Linked DNA regions of Homo sapiens. The protein of the gene in region 2 purifies or fractionates together with the protein of the main gene of each other region. This does not show direct contact. Each region holds a gene or a part of one and is shown on either strand. Other genes may lie near its edges.

The links.
Region 1: the proteins of ZAR1L (region 2) and FAM117A purify together in Homo sapiens (affinity purification with mass spectrometry; one large-scale study listed by BioGRID and IntAct). This does not show direct contact.
Region 3: the proteins of ZAR1L (region 2) and AMBRA1 purify together in Homo sapiens (co-immunoprecipitation; one large-scale study listed by IntAct). This does not show direct contact.

Annotation. Positions count from the first base shown.
Region 1 is NC_000017.11:49,729,632-49,733,131, forward strand, and holds part of FAM117A (protein FAM117A), read right to left. Parts: intron 3,090-3,500; coding exon 2,920-3,089; intron 1-2,919.
Region 2 is NC_000013.11:32,313,039-32,316,863, reverse strand, and holds the start of ZAR1L (protein ZAR1-like), read left to right. Parts: upstream 1-1,500; 5' UTR 1,501-1,549; intron 1,550-1,718; exon of another isoform or gene 1,719-1,787; intron 1,788-2,313; 5' UTR 2,314-2,534; intron 2,535-3,825. Other genes in the region: BRCA2 (breast cancer type 2 susceptibility protein), read right to left, coding at 337-403. UniProt on the Homo sapiens protein: mRNA-binding protein required for maternal mRNA storage, translation and degradation during oocyte maturation.
Region 3 is NC_000011.10:46,429,982-46,433,706, forward strand, and holds part of AMBRA1 (activating molecule in BECN1-regulated autophagy protein 1), read right to left. Parts: intron 3,648-3,725; coding exon 3,493-3,647; intron 1,107-3,492; exon of another isoform or gene 910-1,106; intron 1-909. UniProt on the Homo sapiens protein: Substrate-recognition component of a DCX (DDB1-CUL4-X-box) E3 ubiquitin-protein ligase complex involved in cell cycle control and autophagy.

The DNA.
Region 1 (3,500 bases), on a different chromosome or scaffold from region 2:
AGTAGCTGGGACTACAGATGTGAGTCACCATGCCCAGCTAATTTTTGTATTTTTAGTAGAGATGGGGTTTCACCATGTTGGCCAGGATGGTCTCGACCTCCTGACCTTGTGATCTGCCCACCTCGGCCTCCCAAAGTGCTGGGATTACAGGCGTGAGCCACCATGCCTGGCCATATTAGTCCATTTTTAACAGCTTAAAAGCTTTCAAGGACTTTGGTAGATCCTGCCACCCTCCCTTCCCTCTTCCCCTCTCCAGACACCTTCATGTCTTCCCAGTCAAACCTCTCCTTCCTCTCCAGTCCTTTCTGGGTGATATCCCAGTACTCAATAGGAAAGGAACACCAGTTACTTAGGAATATGTCAGGTGAGCCTCAGACCTCCACAGTGTAATACCAGTGTTGAAGAGGGTAGCTTGGACCAGGCCCGGGGGCTTAAGCAGGAATTTGAATGGAGCCCAAAACCTAGAAGCAGCAAATTCCCAGAAGACCAGGAATGAAAGATGGGTAGAGTGCATATTTTGGTTTGGATGCCTAGGTTGATCAGCATTCTCCACCTCCTGACTGCGGCCACAATATTGACAGGTTGCTAAGAGTTCCTCGAGGGCTGGAGCCCATCCCAGGGAAAGAGGAAAGCTGCATGGCTTGGCCTTGCCAGACCCACGGAGGCTCATCGCTGACCTCTGTCTTGCTGTGGCAAGAAGCCCAGACTTGTTATATAAAAGATCTGGCCTACAGCTGGAGCCTGAGCAAAAACACACAGCCTAGGGCCCATGCCTCTAAACTCAGCCAGGGAACATCTGAGGCCAACCCTGCCTTCAGTTGACAAAGAGAAAGCTATCTGAGGAGTGGGATGGTGACTTCCTAGAAGGCTGAAAGCAGGAAATGACAGAGGCAGAAATAGGTGGGCTACACAGAAGCCTGCCATCTGACAAACAGGGATGCAATAATGAGCTTACACACTCAAAGGAATCTCAAGTCCTGTTCCTCCAGGAAGCCCTCCTTGACTACAAACATATTTGAACTAAGCACTCCTATCAAAAGACAAAGTTATGTGTGCTCCCAGGCCTGTGAGGAGGAAGCATAATTTATCCTACTTGCCTTTTCCAAAGGATAAAGGGAATGGCAGTGCCCAGGGCTCCCAGGAAGGAAGCCTACTCTCTCTCCTTCCTGGAGGGTATTCTCCTTTCACAGTCTATTTGTAGATCCAAAGAGGGCCATGATTTTAACTGCAGCAAATTCTTGTTGATTCAAGGTGGGGTATTCCCATGAGAATTCCCCTTCTTTAAACTTTGCCAGATATTTGGCTCCATCTCATCCCTTGGCTGTCTGTTTACTGGCCCTCATAGAACTGGAATCCAGACTCATGGAGGCCAAATCTTGTCCTCATTTCCTTATTCTTCATTCCAACATGCCAAGAACAGTACTGGGCATTCAAACATTCACTAACAACATTTGAAAATGGATCGCATTAACAAAATAAATAAAGGAAAGAAACTGACATGATGTGGTCAGAAGAGGTACCAAGCACTTTCATGTGTCATTTGGCCATCATGCCACCTACACAGAGGCAGACCACGCACTCTCCACCCAGTTTGCAAAGGAAGAGCTGACTTGCCCAATGTCCCCCAGGGTGAAGGGCTGACTCGGACCCTCATGTCCTAGCCACCCTGTTTCTGCCTATCTCGAAATAACTCATTTGCTCTGAAGATGAACAAGAGTGCGTTTAAACTGCATCAAAAGGGAGATTTGACTCTTAACAACTTAGCTGCTAAGAATGAAGTCCTGAATCAGATTAAGAAATGTCTGTATAATTTCACATATGAGATACGTTCGTGCTAGCTTATCCAAAAATTGGTAAATGAACTGGATGATCTGCAGAGATTCTTTCCGAGCTTGGGATTCTTAATGAAAAGACTGTCTTAATGAAAATACTGAAGGAGAGGAAGCTGGCTCCCCAGTCCTTGAATGGGTACACTGAAATCCCAGTCGGGGCTGCTGGCAAGGAAGAATTCTCCATTATCTGAGAACTTCCCATTCCTATGGCTCCAGTGGGATCTATTCTGGCTCAGCATACTTTTTGGCCACTTCTTTGGGAAATACAAACTCAATAGAATGTTGGCCTTGGTTTAATTTTAGCAAGGTAAATCTCATTTTTTATTTTTTTTATTTTTTTGAGATGGAGTCTTGCTCTGTCACCCAGGATGGAATGCAATGGCGTGATCTCAGCTCACTGCAACCTCTCCCTCCAAGGTTCAAGCGATTCTCCCGCCTCAGCCTCCCAAGTAGCTGGGACTGCAGGCACCCACCACCACGCCCAGCTAATTTTTGTATTTTTAGTAGAGACGGGGTTTCACCATGTTAGCCAGGCTGGTTTCAAACTCTTGACCTCAGGTGATCCGCCTGCCTAGGCCTCCAAAAGTGCTGAGATTATAGGCGTGAGCCACTGCGCCCAGCCTAAATCTCATTTTTTAAAAAGCTAGAATAAACTCTAAAGTCAGCTGTTGATTACCCCGACACAAATACTCAAAGCTAAACTGAAAAACCCAGATTGACTTCTCTCTTCCACCAGGCAGGTGGAATGCAAACTCATTTCCATATAAGTTTACAAAGAAAAACGGTGGTAAATTAGCAGGGCGTGGTAGCAGGCACCTGTAATCCCAGCCACTTGGGAGGATGAGGCACGAGAATCACTTGAACCCGGGAGGCAGAGGTTGCAGTGAGCCAAGATCGCACCACTGCACTCCAGCCTGGGTGACAAAAGGAAACTCTGTCTTAAGAAGATAAAACATTACATGGATAATATGTACGACCAAAACCCAAGACAAATCATCGCAATGACTTGAGGAAGACCAAAGGCCTCCTCAGCCAGCTCTCCCGCCCCATCCTTATCCCTTATCCCATCAGGAGAGAGCTTCATTACCTGGGTGGCCTTGTCATTGGTGCAGCAGGTGAAGGCCCCATCAGCATCTCGTGGCCACTGGCCCAGAAGGTAGGAGCTGAGGATGGTGTCCAGGGAGAATGTACGCCGGACCTGAAGTGGCTGAGGCCTACACACTGACTTTTCTGGGGCCACCGAGCATGGGACGCTGGCTGCAAGAGAACACAGCCCGCACGCCTTGCCATCAGCATGGAGGAAGGAGACGTGGCAATCACCTTCCTCTTCTAAGAGATGTGGCCTGCCTGCCCCGTCTTCACTCATATCCACCACTGTCCTAAAAGAATTTGAAGCAGCCTGAAACAGCACATATGGTCTGACAAGACCTTTCCTGACCTACTCAGCCAGCCTTTATCATGGGAAACAATTTATACCATTTTACTTTGGACTTGGATGTTACTTTATAAATGTCCTCTATCCTTTTCCTGCTCCTAATGGACTATGAACCGTGAACTCCTAGATCTCCACACTGAGTTTCCTGAGAGCAGCACTGTTTCCCATCATTAAAGATAAAACTCTAAGTGGATAAAAAACAAATTTTCTTCCATCTTTTATCTCCTGCCCTT
Region 2 (3,825 bases):
CTCCGGGGGTCCTAGATCATTTTTAAGAGTATAAGGAGTACTGAAACCAAAAAGTTGGACAACTTCTGCCATAAAGTAACATTAATGCTTCTGATTTGTTAGTAATTGTTCCTACTGCTAGTCAAGGGGCCAGTTTCCTCTTTATCCACTAGACGTTCTATATTTATCATGTGGTTAACCTGCAAACGATGATTATGTTGTTAACTGGATTTATACACACATAAGGAACAGTTTATGGTTCTAAGCAACACTGTGACGTACTGGGTTTTTAGCAAGCATTTTTTAGAAAACACTTTCTCGGTGTAATTTATAAAGTTATATAAAATTTGTCAATACCTGCTTTGTTGCAGCGTGTCTTAAAAATTTCAAAAAATGTTGGCCTCTCTTTGGATCCAATAGGCATTTTTACCTACGATATTCCTCCAATGCTTGGTAAATAAGTCTGCAAAACAGAAGACCAAAATGCACTTACACAGGGATGCATTCCTTATTATGTGACTGAGGTAAAACTCAGAAGCGCTGGAAAATTTGTTTGAATTCTAATTCAGTCCCATCTCCTGGAACGGTAACAGCTTACTGTGAGGATGGGAACATTTTACAGCTGTGCTGTCCAAACCGGTGCCACTAGCCACATTAAGCACTCGAAACGTGGCTAGTGCGACTAGAGAAGAGGATTTTCATACGATTTAGTTTCAATCACGCTAACCAGTGACGCGTGGCTAGTGGGGACAGAGGGCTCCAGTTAGAGACCAACGCCGCCTGGTAATTCCCATCAGCATGTCTTCGGAATACAGCAATTACCAGGGGCTTAAGTAAGGCAAATACAGCGTGCCCAGCAGCTGTAAAACACTTCCCCAAAACAGCAATATTCCGTTAAAGTGATCGTGTTTCCAAGAAATTTCAGATGGCGTCATCTGGGACAGCTGGGAGGGAAGTTAAGTCTTGAGCTGAAGGCGGAGCCCAAAGGCCGGGCCGGAGGCGGGAAATGGAGACCCAGGGAAGGGGCGGGGCTCGAATTTGCTTGGCGAAAATCTGCCTTCGGGCAAGGACCTTTCTCTCAGGCATGGGTGGGGGTTGGCAGAGACAAAAGGGCAAGAAGCCGCGGCAGCGACCCGGGGCGTGAGGCGCTCCCCCGCCACGCTGGACTGGGACTGCGGAAGACGCGCTCGTCCCAACCCACTACCACCACCACTAACCCGCTCCAGAGGTGCAGTTCTTTTTTGGCCGGAGTAAGCTGACAAAAACCGCGCCGGTCACAAATCTGTCCCCTCACGCTTCTCCCGGCGGCGACCCACCGCCGCAAAAGACACCCGAGGCGCAGCAGAGGCGCAGCAGTGCCACAGCGGCTCCGCCTCTGCCGCCTAGTTTCAGAAGCTCGCGCCACAAGCCCGCGCTGGCCACGTGACGCCGTGACGCGACACGCAGCACACGCACCACCCGGAAGTCAGGCCTGGGTGGGCCGCTGCGGGTATTTCTCAGTGTGGCGAAAGGAAATTCCTTGTCAGGCATCCCAACCGTCAGTATCTGACCGAATAAAGCGGGAGCTGGAGTGTGTGTTCTCTTCTCGCTGACCCTTAAGAGTCCCAGGCCACCCTGCTTGGAGGGGCCGCCCCTATGCCTACTCCAAGTCCCCCATCCCTTTCTTTTTGCTCCAGCTCATGTTTGGGTGGGCGCCCTCGGGACACGACCTGGGACCTATGAAATACCTTTGTTCTGACCTTAAAAGGGATGTTCTCTCAAGACCTGTTCCCCAAAGCGAGCCGATCTTACAAAAGCTTAGAGTGGTCGGTGTGTGGTTGTGGATGACTTCACTTAGTGGTAGTGGGCGGGGCTGTTATTTGAAATCAGAGGATTTTAGTTCCAGTAGCTGTTCTGCTATTGGGTAGCAGGTGTTCAAGACCTCCGAGCCCGTTTCCTTGCTTGAAAAATTGTGAAACCCATCTTAACTCGCTCATGAAGTGTGAGGTACCTTGCTCCGCAGGGCTTGGTAGTATCTTTTGCTTTTTTTTTTGAGACGGAGTTTCGCTCTTGTGGCCCGGGCTGGTGTGCAATGGCGCAATCTCCGCTCACCGCAACTTCCGCCTCCAGGGATCAAGTGGTTCTCCTGCCTCAGCCTCCCGAGTAGCTGGGAATACAGGCATGGGCCACCACGCACGGCTAACTTTGCATTTTTAAGTAGAGACGGGGTTTCTCCGTTGTTGGTCAGTCTGGTCTCAACCTCCCGACCTCAGGTGATCTGCCTGCCTCGGCCTCCCAAAGCGCTGGGATTACAGGCATGAGCCACCACACCCGGCCCATCTTTTGCATTCTTAGGATTCGGATCACCTGTCTTCCTCGCAGGCTGAACTGGAAGACCTGACTTCATCTCCGAATTCGTTGGTTCTGTAACATGCCTAATACAAGGCTGAATAGGGTTTGTTGTAAGACCTACAAAACCTTCAAATGGATTCAGTGAGAGTTGCTCCCATGGGGGCCTTGCTGCTTCCAGAAGGTGCTTGAGCAGTAAACAGAAGCAACCTTGGATTAGGAAAAGGGTGGGCTCCGCTTGGTTCCTTAGGGACCATTTTAGTTTGATAATCAGTAATCCTTAGTTGTAGAAGGAGGCCTTACTAATGCAGATAGATTCTAAAGCTTTTGCTCTAAGTCTAATTCGCAAAGAAATACGTCTGTGATCCTTACTAATAACAGCTGCCACTTACCAAACATTTTATGAGTTAGGCATTCTGCTTTGGGTTTTCAAGCAATACCATGTTTAATCTTACAGTAATCCTGTAAATTGGTCAGTATTGTCAGATGAGGATACTGAATCAAGTAGTTAAGTAATGTGCCTGGTAGTAAGGCCCAGGTTTGAATTCTAGTCCATTTGACTTCATACACTTAACTAACCTGTGATTTATTTACCCTATAAATCAGAACAATATGCTTTGTCCCCTTTTTGTGGGGGAGGGGTGTCTCACTAGGAGTGGACTAATGAGAACCCGTGGCATGTCACACAAGTCTCAGAAATAACATTTTCTGTCATTTTATACAGCCCCCCATACCTTTATGTTTCTTGTTCTCTTTGTACCAGGGACTTGCAACTTATTAGCTCCACCATAATAGACTTTCTCACCTATTCTCTTCTAGTGCAGCTGCTCAATTTACTATTTGTATTCAATTTACAATATGCTTTAATTTTTCTTAAAAACATTATTTCCAGCTGGGCATGGTGGCTCACGCCTGTAATCACAGCACTTTGGGAGGCCAAGGTGGGCAGATCACCTGAGGTCAGGAGTTCGAGACCAGCCTGGCCAACATGGCAAAACCCTGTCTCTACTAAAAATACAAAAATTAACTGGGTGTGGTGGCATGTGCCTGTAATCCCAGCTACTTGGGAGGCTGAGGTGGGAGAATCACTTGAACCCCAGAGGCGGAAGTTGCAGTGAGCCGAAATCATGCCACTGCACTCCTGCCTGGGAGACAGAGCAAGGAAACTCCATTTCAAACAAGCAAACAAACAAAAACCCAAAAAACCATTATTTCCTAAAAGTTGTATATATTTAATGTGCACAACATGTATATGTACACAGTGAGATGATTACTATAGTCAAGCAATTAACATATCCATCTGTTCACATAATTACCTTTCTTTTGTGTGCGGTGAGAGCACCTGAAATTTCTCTTTGAAACTTTTCAGTATAAAATACAGTATTGTTAACTGTAGTCGTTATGCTGTAAATTAGATCTCTAGACTCATTCATTCTACCTAACTGTAACATTTTAGGCTCTGACCAGTCTCTCTCCATTCCCCCCAACTTCCTGTCCCTGGTAACCACCATTCTACTT
Region 3 (3,725 bases), on a different chromosome or scaffold from region 2:
GACAGTGGGAAGGGAGAGAGAAAATATGTGCCCAGTCTTACTTTCCTGACTTACCCATCATTAAAACTGGGAGGACTAGCACGATAAACAGAGAAGGGAAAGATCAAAAGGACCCTAGATCCTAGAAATAAGGACAAAAATTAAAATGATTCAACATAAAGAAAAGACTCCAGCACATACAGCTATTCAAGGGAGAAACCTGGAAAGCAGCAACAGCCTAGAAAAGATGGGAGGTGAGGCGCAGACAGCCAAAAAAGCTGAGTTTGGTAGGAAACAGAAGACAAACACCACTGTGCCTGCAACATAATTAGCAAAGAATCAAAGCACCATGCACAAAACCACAATGGCAAGTAGACCTGAGACTGACTCTGCCTTGCTGAGGAGGCTGAGGGCAGACACCTAAAATGAAGAAATCTTGTTTTAAAAATACTAATCCTGGGTCCCTCTGACTCCCATTCTTATTCTGATTTTAGGTCTGAAATGGATCTGTATTTTAATAAGGACCCATGTAGTTCTACTGTAAGTTGTCCAAGAACCACAGTTTGAGAAGCACTGATCCAGAAGTCTGAAGAACTGCTTAGAGTAAGTGCATCAAGGCTAATAGCAATTAGCAATTCATTTTCAGAAGAGTTTTCATATGGGATTGTGTCAGAGATCATCTCTTGGGGAGAGATGTCACTTAGTGCCATCTTAAAATAAATCAATGCTCTGGAGGATGTTCTCCTGGGAATGTCTGTTGGCCCAACACATTTGCCTCTCTGAACATTACCACAGTGAATTCCAAGAGGTAACACCAGACAGAAGGGGAATTCTGGGTAGCAAAGCTCTAGGACAGGCCCATTACCCACTAAAGCATTCCTTTATGGTCAGAGCTTGACATTAGAGATGGAGACACCCACCTATACTTACCTGTGCAAAGAGGGAGATGCTGTACTGTCCCATTAAACCCTTGCTCCCTGTTCTCAGACAAAAATTCACTTCTTGCCTTAAACGGTGATACAGCACAGCTATCCAAAAAAGCTGGTGTCTTCCCTTCCACCAATCACTGAATTCAGGGACATTTGCTGAGTGATCTGGTGCCTTTGGACGTAAGGGGCAACCAAGACCTGGAAAACCAGAAACCTTTCTGTAGCATGGGGGTTTAAAGTCAGACTGGGTGGACACTTGGTTGACCTAAACCTTGTTGAGATGCCTTGATCCTGTCTCTTGGGTGACAGGAACACTTCCCAAATGGGAACTTTCTAGGTACTTCAGCTCCCTTTCTTAGTGCTTGGTGGCAGATGGTACCTACTGAGAATCAAAAAAGGTTCACCAGGCAGCCTGGCAGTAGTAGTAGCTCCAGTCACCAAGCATGCAGCTGCTGGCTAGCTGCCTTGAGACCCTTGGCAGGACAGCCAGGGGCTGACTGGATTACCACATCTCCTCAGCAGAGAACCACATTCCTTGAGCTGCCAGCCCCATATGTGACAACAGATCCCATCACCTTGGCTTCTGCTTTGTAACTGTTTGTCTTCAGCCAGATGTTTCTGGCTACTATGGAAAAGTGGAACTGTGCTAAGATGGAGAACTGGCAGGCTGTGTGCAGGAGCTGGGCAAGAGCCCTGGCTTATGAAAGAAGCTAGAGAGGTCTGTCAGAGCTACCAACATCAGATTCTGTCTCTTAATGATTTAAACGATTATTCCACAATTAGGCCGGAAGGGTTAGAAGAGCAGCTGTTGGGACTGGGATTCCAGGTGGTGAAAAGCAGAGACCAGCTTCTGCTTAAGAGAAGCAAAAGAAGAATATTTAAATGAAAACTCAACTTCCATCCTCAAATATCTAGATAAGAAAATAGACTTGATGAACATCCCACAATGACATCTCCTATTCACCCAATGTCAAATATTTCCAGCCATATGGAATTCAAGATCAGAACTTTCTTGTCATTGTGATATCAAGAGGACAGAATGACTTGTTTTCCTTTCAGAAGCTTGGTGGGACATGATGTTATGTTACCCATCATTGGTTCTGCTAGTTACCACCTAGAAATGATAAAGAGGATGCTTTATTTTTATTTATTTATTTTTTTTTGAGATTCTCTTTCATTCATTCATTCACTTTCTACTAAGTGTCAGGTTCCGCATGAAGTTCTTGGACTTCATAAAGATAAAACAGACACAGTCTCTATTCTCAAGGAGCTCACAGCCCAGGAGAAGAGAGTGACATGGAAACAAATAACTGCAGTTTGGTGTGACAAGTACTGACATGAGAATGTGTAAGAGGTACAATGATAGCACAAGGAACGAGTGATCAATTCTATTAAGATGGATGCCACAGAAAGTAAAAAGCTTGCAGGTAGCTGGAGATAGGGGACAGGAGGGCATTCCAAGTAAAGGTACCCTGGCAAGAAGGCACTTTGACAAATTCAAGAAGCTTGAAAAGTGGCTCAGTGTAGTTGGACAGAGGATATCTGTAGGAGACAGGAGGGAGAAGAGGCTGGAGAGGAAAGGACCACACCAGGCCACCCACTTTCTATCACTTTGTATATAATGGGTGCTATCTCTAGTTTTTTTATTTAAAACAAATGCTTCCCATTCCAGATATTCAACAGCCATCTACATGCACAGCACTAAATGAGGGACCTGAGGGATATCCCTCTAAGGAGCTTACACTGAACCGAATTGGGTGGATTAAACACATACGCTACACAGCTAAAGAAGACAAAAAATGGACCAACAAGTACATCCAACTATAAATGGTACAGATTGCACAAAGTACTAAGGAAATTCACAGGTTCTTGGATTCTGACAAAGCTTGAATACTATCTAATTAGAGAACTGTTCAAATGCTTGAATCCCCTTGACAAAACCCTGGCTAAATGAGCACCTATGGGACGTGGGACGTTCACTCAGGCACGTTAGTCTGGCTGAGGCCAAAAGGCCACGAACCACAGGATGCCCAGAAGGCTTTTATGGCAATATAAGAGAGACGTGCCTTAGACAAGACAGGGTCCTAGACAGGACCTTTTCTCCACTGGTGAAATGAATGGGATGATTAAGAATACAGCAACTGCCTAAAGTCTTCATCTTCCATCATAATTATAACCCACAGAAAAAAAACATTTCATGGCATACTATTACTTTTTACAGCTTGTTCCCTCACACACACACACAAAAAGCTTTAAAAATAAGCATTTCATTGGGTCCTTTATGCATCTCCAGATTAAAAGTTTCACGTAGAAGTAAGGAAGTATTCAGTTTATCTGAAGATACTTGCAGGCCTCTGGGGAATGCAGCACATATTCTAGGGTGTGAGGAAAGGCCTTTGATAGTCCAGAGCTTCCACAAATGAAGCCTGCTGGTCATGGATGGGCTTGACTACAGCCCTTCCTTACTCCTTATGACTGTGTGATAGCTCTGGTCCTGGCTGGGAGGTCACACCACTGTCCCCTCATTACCCTTCCAAGCCTAGGGGAGCTGCCATACAGTGAAGGCACAAGCAATGGCACTCACCCTCATGGAGGTCTCTCCACCATGGGCCTGTTGCAGCCTGAAGACCTGGGCCACCATGTGCTCTGTGGAGGGGTGCAGCAGGATCCTTCGTGAGGCCAAGCCCACCATTACATATCTGCCCATTGGGGACAGGCTCACCGAAATGGCATTGGGACCTGAGGGCCAACAAAACAGAGAAATATTTCCTAGGCTTCTGGCCATTCCAAGGAAACAACTTTCACTCTTACTCTTGT